2 separate regions of the Homo sapiens genome follow, and region 2 is linked to region 1. A link means that fine-mapping ties the variant in region 1 to the expression of a gene that starts in the linked region. Tissue or cell type: tibial nerve. Region 1 holds a variant in brackets; the other region holds the start of a gene. All regions are shown on one strand. Distances are between the middles of the regions.

What was found. PIP is the estimated chance that this variant, and not a neighbour inherited with it, causes the effect.
Region 2: SCMH1 starts here. The variant in region 1 is fine-mapped to the expression of SCMH1 in tibial nerve (GTEx, PIP above 0.99). The same link has a PIP of 0.9 or more in aorta.

The regions. Positions count from the first base shown.
Region 1 is chr1:41,075,425-41,080,570 of GRCh38, forward strand. It overlaps SCMH1 (Scm polycomb group protein homolog 1), which reads right to left. Exons shown (of 16, transcript NM_001394311.1): 9 at 1-27. Among named protein-coding and RNA genes, the nearest start is that of SLFNL1, 56 kb to the left of the region's middle. The variant G/T (reference allele first, on the strand shown) is at 3,183.
Region 2 is chr1:41,240,256-41,245,401 of GRCh38, forward strand. SCMH1 (Scm polycomb group protein homolog 1) reads right to left here and starts at 2,051. Exons shown (of 16, transcript NM_001394311.1): 1 at 1,804-2,051. SCMH1-DT (SCMH1 divergent transcript) reads left to right here and starts at 2,103. Exons shown (of 3, transcript NR_186015.1): 1 at 2,103-2,451. RefSeq lists an enhancer at 612-791 and silencers at 1,112-1,271, 1,372-1,921, 1,962-2,361.

The sequences.
Region 1 (5,146 bases):
CAGGATAGGGATTCTTTGGAATCACAACTGCAAGAAAAAGACTCATTCTATCACCCTCCCTCCCCCCTGCATTCTCATCCCAGCCAGAAGAAAAAAAGGACTTGCCACTTCTGCTCAGGTAGTTTTGTTCCAAGAAGCTGGTTTCCTGGCATTTGACCTAAATGTTAAGGAAATCTCTGAAGAAGACTGAATTTAGATTGGCTGGAATTGGAGGTTTTAAATTATTTCTGGCAGATGCAGAAAAAATATTAAATTTTTCTTCCTAAGGCACCTTAGACAAATATTGTGACCTAAGTCAAAGGTGAAGTATATAAATATTAATAGAATCATAGGCTCAGAGTTGAAAGGGCTCTTAGAAACCTGTAATTCTGTCCTGCTAAGAATGAAGGTCTGAGGCTCAGAACAAGACACAATGCCCTCCGCAGGTTACATAGTGAGTTGGGATAAGAACTTGTTTTAAAATTGAGCCCTGATAACCATGCCAGGGATTTTCTACATCAATCTACTTGAAGTTTTAGTTTGACTATTGCAGTGAGGAGTAGAGGAACATGTGGAAATATAAATCTGATAGCATCTCTCCTTAAAAATCTTTGCTCTTAAAAACCTTTATTCCTTATTACCTTTAAGGTAAGGTCTAAATTCTTTAACCTGATTTCTAAGGACTTTTTTGACTCTGCCCATCTTGCTCTCCCATTATGACTGATGTCATTTCCTATCATCCAACCCCATGTTCTAGTAGCCCTTATATGTTGAGCTCTCTATTACTCTTTGTCAGACACATATCAATACTCAGTTTTCAACACTGGATCCAGGGCCACCTCCTTATTGAGGACTTCTCTGACCATGTCCCAACTAGGTCAGTGTCCTCTCTTTACTCCCAAAGCATTCTGTAGACATCTATGTTACAGTACTTCTTAATTTTACTCCAATTATTCATTTTTTCCTTAAACTGAGAATTTTTTGAGGTAAGGGATATCTAAGACATCCTACAAATAGTGAGAACTTACTATAAGTTATACACTGTACTAAGCTCTGGGGATAGAACTGTGAACAAACCAGACTTCCACTCTCATGGAGCTTACCTCCTAGTGAGAGAGAAAGAAAATTAAAAAAATAACACAATATACGGTATAATGTCAGGTAGTGCTAAGTGCTGTGATTAAAATTAATGCAGGGTAAGGAAACAAAATTTTAAGGGAAGTCCTCTTTGAGGAGATGACATTTACACAGAGCTCCCGAAAGAGGTAAAGGCACAATGCCTTATGAAGATGTGAGAGGGTATAACAACAAGTGCAAAGAGTCTGAGACAGGAACATGTTAGTGTGTTTGAGAAATTGGAAAGGAGGTCAGTAGAGCTGTAACTGAGTGAGCAAAGGGGAGGGTAGAGAGAAATTAGGTTAGAGAGTGAGTAGCAGTAAAATTGTGTAGGACTGCAGCCTGTGAAAATGAACTGAACTTATTCTAAATATAAAGGGAAGCCACTAGAGGGTTTTGAGCAGGGGAGGGACAAGATATACTTAGAAGGACCACTCTGACTGCTTTGTGAGAGGGACGAGAGTAGAATTAGGGAGACCAGTTAATAAACTATTATATAGGGCAGGTAGAAGATAATACTTCCTAGGCCTCCAGGTAGGAAGTGATAGTTGTGGTAGTACAATGTTAACGATGCAACAACTAGAAAAAGTCAGAGTAATTATTTAAAAAGACACCACAGAGCTGTCATGAGGAAGACACCACAGAGCTGTCATGAGGATTAGATGAACTGGAATTCCAAGGGGTGGCCTCTGAGGTAGCTGATACTGTTTTCTTTCCTGAGGGCATCTGCTAATTTTGGCATAAACTAAGGATCAGGCTTGGCATGTGGTGAGGGGCTCTACTGGAGGAAAGAGAAATGAGAGCTGCTGCGACAAACTGGAAACTTAAGGAGCCCCTGCATGTGGCCAGTTTTTCTCATTGGGTATCTGCTGAATTTTGGGCCAGCACATTGGAACTTCAAAGCTAGACTGAGAGCTTTTAAAAGGCAGAATAAAATCTCCTATAATCTTGTGGTTTTAGGAGATAAGGTTCCACTAGAAGTAGGTAGTATACCCCAAATACATGGCTGATCTCCTCTTAAAGATATTTTAAAACTATAAGGGGTGAGAGGTAATAAAACTAAGCCCCAGACCTCTCAAGGGTAGGACAATCTCCTGCAGTGTTTCAGGGCTAAGGAGCTAGAAATTAGGTTCCCAACCAAGAGCCCAAGAGGGTCCGTGTCCAAAAAACAAGCATAAACCATAGGCACAATCCAGATGTGGTCTAACTCAATCCAGAATTAGATTGAGGTGATCAGGCCCTATCCTATTTAGTCTAGCAGAGGAAAGGAAGAATTCTTTCTCATGGAAGATACCAGTTGGAGCCTCAATAGTTCTTTTAATATAAAACGTTTGGCATACTACAAAAATTATTAGACATAACAGAGTCAAAACAGTGTGATCAGTAATCAAGAGAAAATACAGGCAATAGAAAGAGACCCATATATTATCCAAATAATGGAACAAACAAACAGATTTTTTAAAAATCATAATTAAAATGTTAAAATGTAAAAAAGATGAACAAAATATAAGAAAAGGTAGATAGTACCCACAGAAATATCTATATAAAAAACTAAATGGACATCTTATAACTAAAAAATACAATATTAGGAATAACTCATTGCATGGGTTTAAGGACAGACAAGAGCCAATAGAAAGGATTAATAAACTTGATGAAAAAATAGAAAACATCCAAAATAAAGTACAGTGAGAAAATATGAAAAAATATATTAGAGCATTAGAGATTAAGTAGACACAGTCAATAGGTCCAAAATATGAGTGGCTGCAATCCCACAGGGAGAAGACAGATAGAATGAAGAAAAAGCAATATATGAAAAGGTAACAGCGGAGACTTAATCTCTAACTAATGAAAGACATCAACCCACAGATTCAGGATGCTTATGGATTCAGCAATCCATAGCAGGAAAAATACAAAGAAAACGATACCAAAACACATAATTGTCAAACTGCTGAAAATACAAAAGATGAAATACAGATGAAATAAAAGACAGGGAGGAAATACAAAGATATATTTTAAAAAGCAGTCAGAGAGAAAAACAGCATTACCGGAGCAACAATAAGAGTGATAGCAGGCTCTTTAATAAAACT[G/T]TGTAAGCAAGAAGAAGTAGAATAGTATCCTTAAAGGGCTAAAAGAAACAGACTACCAAAGATAGAATTATACACCCAGTGAAAATATCCTTCAGAAATAAAGGTAAAATAATGAGATTTTCAAATAATCAAAGTTGAGAGAATCTGTCACCAGCAGACCTAACTATGGAAAATGAAAAGGAAGTTCTTCAGGCTGAAGGACATTCCAAATGGAAACATGAAACTACAGGAAGGATGAAGAACACGAGAAAGGGTAAACATGTGAGTTGATACAAAAGGATACTGATTATTTAAAACAATAATAAAAATGGCTTGTGCCGTTTATAATATATGTATTAATAAGTTATGTGACAGTAATAGCACAGAGGATGAAAGTGGAGAGTAAATGGAGCCAAACTTTGTTAAGAATTTTGCATTATTTGGGAGTAGTTAGAGCACTTATTTAAGGTAGATTTTAATAAGTCCAATATGCATATTTGCATACGGCAATTAATTAAAGAATTATCAGGGATAAGAATGCATTACTAAAAAGCTAAGGGGAGAGAAGTAGAATAATAAAACATACTTGATTAATCCAAAAGAAGGCAAGAAAGGAGGAATAAAGAAATAAGGAAGAACTTGGACAAATAGAAAACAAAAAAGCAAAATGCAAAATGTTGACTTAAACCCAAATAAATAATTTTATTAAAGAAGGGTGGATTAAGTAAAACAGTCAGTAGGAATAAATGAACAAACCAGACCAAAAAAAACCCCCAGAACTCAATTATATTTGTTTATAAGAGGGCCCTGAGATACAAAGACACTCAAAATATAAAAACACAGGAAGAGAAAAGCAAACAGATGAAAATAATGTACTCTATAAACACTAACCAAAAGAAAACTAATAACATGAATAACCAATTAACCAACCAACCTAACTGATACATATACCTAATAAATATAGAATACGCAGAGACAATTTCATCATAGATCCATCAGACATTGGGTAGAGAACAGGACAGTATGAATAACTTTATGCCAATTAAATATGAAAATTGAGATAAAATGTCACTCAAGACCAGCCTGGGCAACACTGTGAGACCCCATCTCTACAAAAACAAATTAGTTGAGCATGGTGTGTGCCTGTAGCCCTAGCTACTCAAGAGGATCGCTTGAGCCCAGGTCGAGGTTGCAGTGAGCTATATCACACCACTGCACTTCAGCCTGGATTACAGGCTCTATCTCTTATCTCTAATGCTCTAAATTTTTTTTGTATTTTCTCACTGTACTTTATTTTGGATATTTTCTATTTTTTCATCAAGTTTATTACTCCTTTCTGTTGGCTCTTGTCTGCCCTTAAACCCATGCAATGAGTTATTCCTAATACTGTATTTTTTAGGTATAAGATGTCCATTTAATTTTTTATATAGATATTTCTGTGGGTACTATTTTTTCTTACACTTTGTTCATCTTTTTTACATTTTAACATTTTAATTATGATTTTTAAAAAATCTGTTTGTTTGTTCCATTATTTACATAATATATGAGTCTCTCTCTTAAAACACAAAACAAAGCAAAAATACCACTGACACAAGAAAAAAACAGAATATGAAGAGCCTCATACATAATAAAAAATTGCAATTGCAATTAAAAATCTTTCCACAAAGAAAATCCCAGGCCTAAACTGGCTTCACTGATGAATTCTAGCAAATATTTAAAGAAGAAATAATAACAAATCTTGCAAAGCCTCTTTTGAAAAATAGAAGAGGGAACACTTCCCATTTCATTTTATAAGGCCAGCATAACCCTCATACCAAAACATGACAAAGATAGTTACAAGAAAAAAAAACTATAGACTAATATCCCTCATGAACATACATCCAAAATCTTTAACAAAGTATTTGTAAATTAAATCTAGGTCTCTCTCTATATGTATATCAGATATACAATCCTATATATATCATATCATAACATGCAGGATAATA
Region 2 (5,146 bases), 160 kb after region 1:
AAACACTGAAACTTTGCTTAGTACTTAAACAGGATCCCAGATGTAAGAGCCTGGCCTTTTATCTACAAGGCCATCTCATCTCTACTGGGCTTAAAACATTACTAACCTGCAGAGTTGCTTAGGCAAGAGTTTAGGAGGTTGGTAAGTAAGCAACAAAAAGTGTTCTCTTTCATAGTAATTTTGGGCCTCCTGCTGGCAGTTAGAACTAGAGCAAAGAGTTCAATGTAATAAAGCATTTCCCTCTGCAACCAAATATTAAAATTGCAGTTTGGCACTAAACTAGGTCTCAATCCTTTTCAGAGTTTAAAAAAAAAAAAAGAGCTATTCTATTTGCCTGGCACATTACACTTCAACAAAACATTTTGATGTACATTAGTTAGCAACATTTGATAAAGTGTTTATAGACATTTTTTAAAAGGAAGGAAACCCCCAAATTTCCACAAAATAAGATGTCTTTTAGTTTGTTTGAACAAACACTACTAAATGTTTTCTTTTTTTTTTTTTTTTAAGTTCAAAATACAGTACAGAAATGAGGAAGGGAATCTAGAGTACTTTTGATTTAAGCAGGTCAATCCTTGGGGCTGTTTCTTAGAGAAACTTACTACGTTTTGTCTCCAGGATCACTTTTAAGAAACTCTCCTTTAAGGGGATGGGGGAAACTAAAGCTCATCCAGAGGACAGTTTAGAGAACCACAGCAGATGAGAGACAACTGAAGAAAGTGGAAGTGAAGACTCAGGGGACATGATTACTATCTTCAGATATCTTAACAGCTTCCCATAAGGGAAAAGAACTAGGAAGGATGGGAGCCAGCTGTTTCTTTCAACTTATAACCAAATGTGTCCAGGAACAGAATGGGTTTCCTTTAAAGAGATTCGCTTCGGATCACTGGAAGAGGTTCCAAACGGGCTCGTCAAATTATCGGGGGGATTTGGGGATTTTCAAAGTCACTTTGGCATGGGATGGGAGAAAGCGCCCCTAGATGACTTTTAAATTCTCTTCCAGTCAGGAGATATTCCGGGGTTCACCCATCGGCTGGATACCACTTTCGATGCTCTCGGGCTGGCACACAACTGTGCCCACGTGTCTGGCCCCCAGGGCCGCTGTGGCTCACTTCGGTGCGGGGCCGCTCTCCCTGCCCGTTTCCGGCGGGGCACTGGGGCAGGCGGCACACGTGAGTCGGCCAGCCGGGGCCCAGCCCCCAGGACGCTGCTGACAGCTCCGGGCCCTAGGCGCCCCAGCTCTCGGTGGGGGCCACGCCGCCCCGTCGACCTCTGTCTCTGCCTTCCCCGAACCGGGACCCGGCCAGCCAGAATCACAGGCATTCCCACCTCTGGCGCCGGAGGGGACCGACTGACCCGCGCAGACGGGGTCGCGCCGCCGCCCGGCCCTCGGCCCCCAGCCAGCCTGCCCCGGCCCACCCGGCCCCGCCGGCCAGACACGGCGACCTATACGGACCGCCCCCACGCCGACCCTCCAAAGGGCCCCCGGCCTTGGGTTTCCCGTGCCGGGGCCCCCGGGCAGTCCTGGCGGCGTCAGGGCCGCGACCGGACCGTGGGCCCCGCCCGCCCGACCGCAGATGCAGAGCCGGCCTCCGGGCTCGGGGCCGGGCTGACACGGCCGAGAAAGGGCCCAGCCCCGCGCGGACCACAGACTGGCAGGCCGGCCAGACAGACGGACAGGCTGACCCCGGCCCGGGGGAGCAGGCGCAGCGGCTGCGCAGGTCCCGCCACCGCCTTCTGGCCCCAGGCGGCCCCTCAGGGCACGAGCTCTTAGGCGGGCGGAGGCGGCCGCGAGGCGCTTACCTGAGGGCGCGGCGGGGGCGCGGGGCGGCTCACTCTCTTCCCGCCGCCATGTTTCCGCTGCGCAGGGAGGGAGCGGAGACGCGGGAAGGGGGCGGGCGGGCGGCTCGGGAGAGCGGCGGGCGGGCGGCGGGGGGCTCCACCGAGCTGGCGGTGGCGGCTGAGGCGGGGGGCGGGGCGGGGGCTCCCCCGGCCCCTCCCCCGCGCCTCCCGCTGCGAGGTGGCGCGCGCCTCGGCCGTTGGGCTCGCGCGGGGGGCGGGGCGGCGCGCTGGAGGAGGGAGGGCGCGCGGGAACCCGGCCCGGCCGTACCCCGCCGGCCTGCCGACCCGGGTCCGGGGGCCCAGTTGGCGCCCGGACCAGCTCTCCGGTCTGCGTCCTGTAGATGGGAAAACTGAGGCCTGAGAGGGCGCGAGGGCGGGGACGAGGCCGAGGACTCGGGTTCGAATCTCGAGGACGCCAGTAGCCCGCTCTGAGGCCGCGTGGGGCTGGTGGAGGAGCCACCGGTCGGGCCCCCAAGACCGGCTGACGTGGGCCTCGCCTCGGGCGACTCCCGCCGGGCTAGTGGCTGGCCGTGTGGTGACCTTGGGCGAGTTACTTCGCACAGCCACCCAGGGGCCTCTTCTCCAACACGATAGCACTGCACCCGGAGGGTAGGTGAGAGATGAGTTGGTGCTTGGATGCCCTAGGGAGTGTCAGCGTCCTCGGTCCTCCCTGTGGTGATCCCTTCAACGAGTACGCACTGAGCCCGTGATGGGCCAGGTACAATGCACAGGCTCATTCTTCCAGGCCCACCAGCCATGTTGGCTACACAATTCTATTTTTGTTTTGTTAGAGATGGAGCCTCACTTTGTCCCCAAGGTCGGAGTGCAGTGGCGCCATCATAGCTCACTGTAACCTCAAATTACTGGGCTCAAGTGATCCTCCTGCGTCAGCCTCCCAAAGCGCTGGGACTACAGGCGTGAGCCACTGCGCCTGGCACACAATTGGTTTAACCACCACATCATTTTAGCAGCTTAGGAAACTGACGTCTTGACTTCTGTTTTGGCTGCTTGAAAATACAGTGCAATATAAATCCCGAGACCTCTGCTGAGCTGGATGTGGAGTGGGTGTGGGCATCATTTAGAACATGGCAATCCTCAGGTCACACAGGAATGTCTTGTTAATGATCCTTCTGTGAACAATGTTCCTTGGAGGGAAGTCCACTTAAGCAAGGCTGGAGCAGCAGATGGGGCAGCTGAGCCTGGATTACTTGCCTTGCCTCTAGAATAGGTCTTAGAGCTTTGGACTGAAGGGGGGCCGCCTCCTTGTATCCTGGTATTGGTGTCAGTATCCGTCTGCCCATTCTTGAGAAATGGAAATGGTCAGAATCTATCCAGGTTCTGATCTGCATCCCTGTTGTCTAATTTAAACTTTCATTCCATGGCGTTTTGGGGAGTACCTGTCTCATGAAGAGCCCTGAGGTTACAAGGATAATTAGAGCCTAAATCTAAGGAGCCCATATTTGGGGAAACTATTATGTCAATAGCTAATGAGAGCACAGTGTTGTAAGTGCTCATATTAGTTTTCTATTCCTGCATAACAAATTGGCACAAATTTTGCAGCTTAAAGCAACACCCATTGATTTACTCACAGTTGTGTAGGTCGGAAAACTGGCATGGTGTGGCTGGGTTTTCTGCTCGTGGTGTCATAGGCTGAAATCAAGATGTCTAGCACCTCCACGAGGGAAAGGTCTGCCCCAGGCTCCTTCGGGCTGTTGGCAGAATTCATGTCCCTGTAGGACTAGGATCCCACAGCTACACTGTTTTGCCAGCTCTCTGTTGGGGACCACTCTCAGGTCCTTGCCACGTGATCCCTTTTATCTCATCAACAGAGAACCTTTCTCATGTCACTCCCTCTCATTCTTTAAATATCTCTGATTTCCCTTCTTCAACCAGTCAGAGAACACTATGAGCTTTTAAAAGACTTGTAATTAGGTCAGACCCACCTAGATAATCTTCCTACTTTAAGATCACCTGTGCCACATCACATACCCTAATCACAGGAGTAAAATTCATCATAGCCACTGTCCCAGGGACTATGCAGAAGGTGTACATGAAGGTTAATCTAGGAAGCTACCTTAGAATTCTGCCTACTACGTCCAGTGAGAAATGTTCTCTTGAACATTTTCTCTATGAATTCCCCTAGCAGTTTGTTCTGTAACTCTGTCCATGGCACCATATATGTTGCCATTATTGGAGTATATTTCTAAACCTCTTTTCTAGGCTGAAAGCGTCTTGAGATCAGGAACCTTATTCACACCTGTAGCCTTAGATAAGGCTTGGCATGAGGGAGATATTCCCACATCTGCTAAAAATAAATAAATATTATGCATATTGTCCTTTGGATTCCTGCTTTTTTTTTTTTTTGAGATGGAGTCTCGCTCTGTCATCCAGTTTGGAGTGCAGTGGCATGATCTCGGCTCACTGCAAGCTCCATCTTCCGGGTTCACGCCATTCTCCTGCCTCAGCCTCCTGAGTAGGTGGGACTACAGGCGCCTGCCACCACGCCCAGCTAATTTTTTGTATTTTTAGTAGAGACAGCGTTTCACCATGTTAGCCAGGATGGTCTCAATCTCCTGACCTTGTGATCCGCCCTCCTTGGCCTCCCAAAGTGCTGGGATTACAGGCGTGAGCCACCACACCCAGCCTCCTGCTTCTTTTTTAGATCCAGCTCAGAACTTCTCTGACACTTCTCAGGAAGAACTCATTTCTCCCTCCTCTCCACTGTCACTTGGTAAAAATCTCTGTGTGAAATGTTTCCCATTGTAGTATTTTAAGTCAGACTGTAGTTTCCTTGAATATAGTACTTTGCTTTTATTCCACTTAATATTCCAGGGCACAGCATAATGTATTAACAGTTCTGTGCTGTTCAATTAAACAACTAATTACACATGGGTGTTATTAGTTGCTTAATGTTTGGATTTTAATAAGGGGGGTTAAAAACCAAGAGGCAACTGGAGAGTGGAATTGGGCTATGACAGACCCTGTGACCTTTGGGTTACAGGTGTGGGGAAGCCAAGAAATACAGAGGCAATGGAGAGGGAAGAAATAGGCAAGTTAATCAGGATGTAATTTTTTTTTAAAGGAGGTATGCTAGGAAACCCCAGGTCTGCTCTTTTCTACATTACATTACAGCAAAAAGGAGTGATTATTCTGGCACTGACAGAACTGACAAAAACAGTAGTTTTTGTTTTGTTTTTTGTTTTTGTTTTTTTTCATGTTGTTGATGACCCAGTAGAAGAGTTGGTAAAGGAAATGGGAAAGATGGTTTCTGATGCTTAAAGAAAGTATGTGTGTTGCGGGGTGT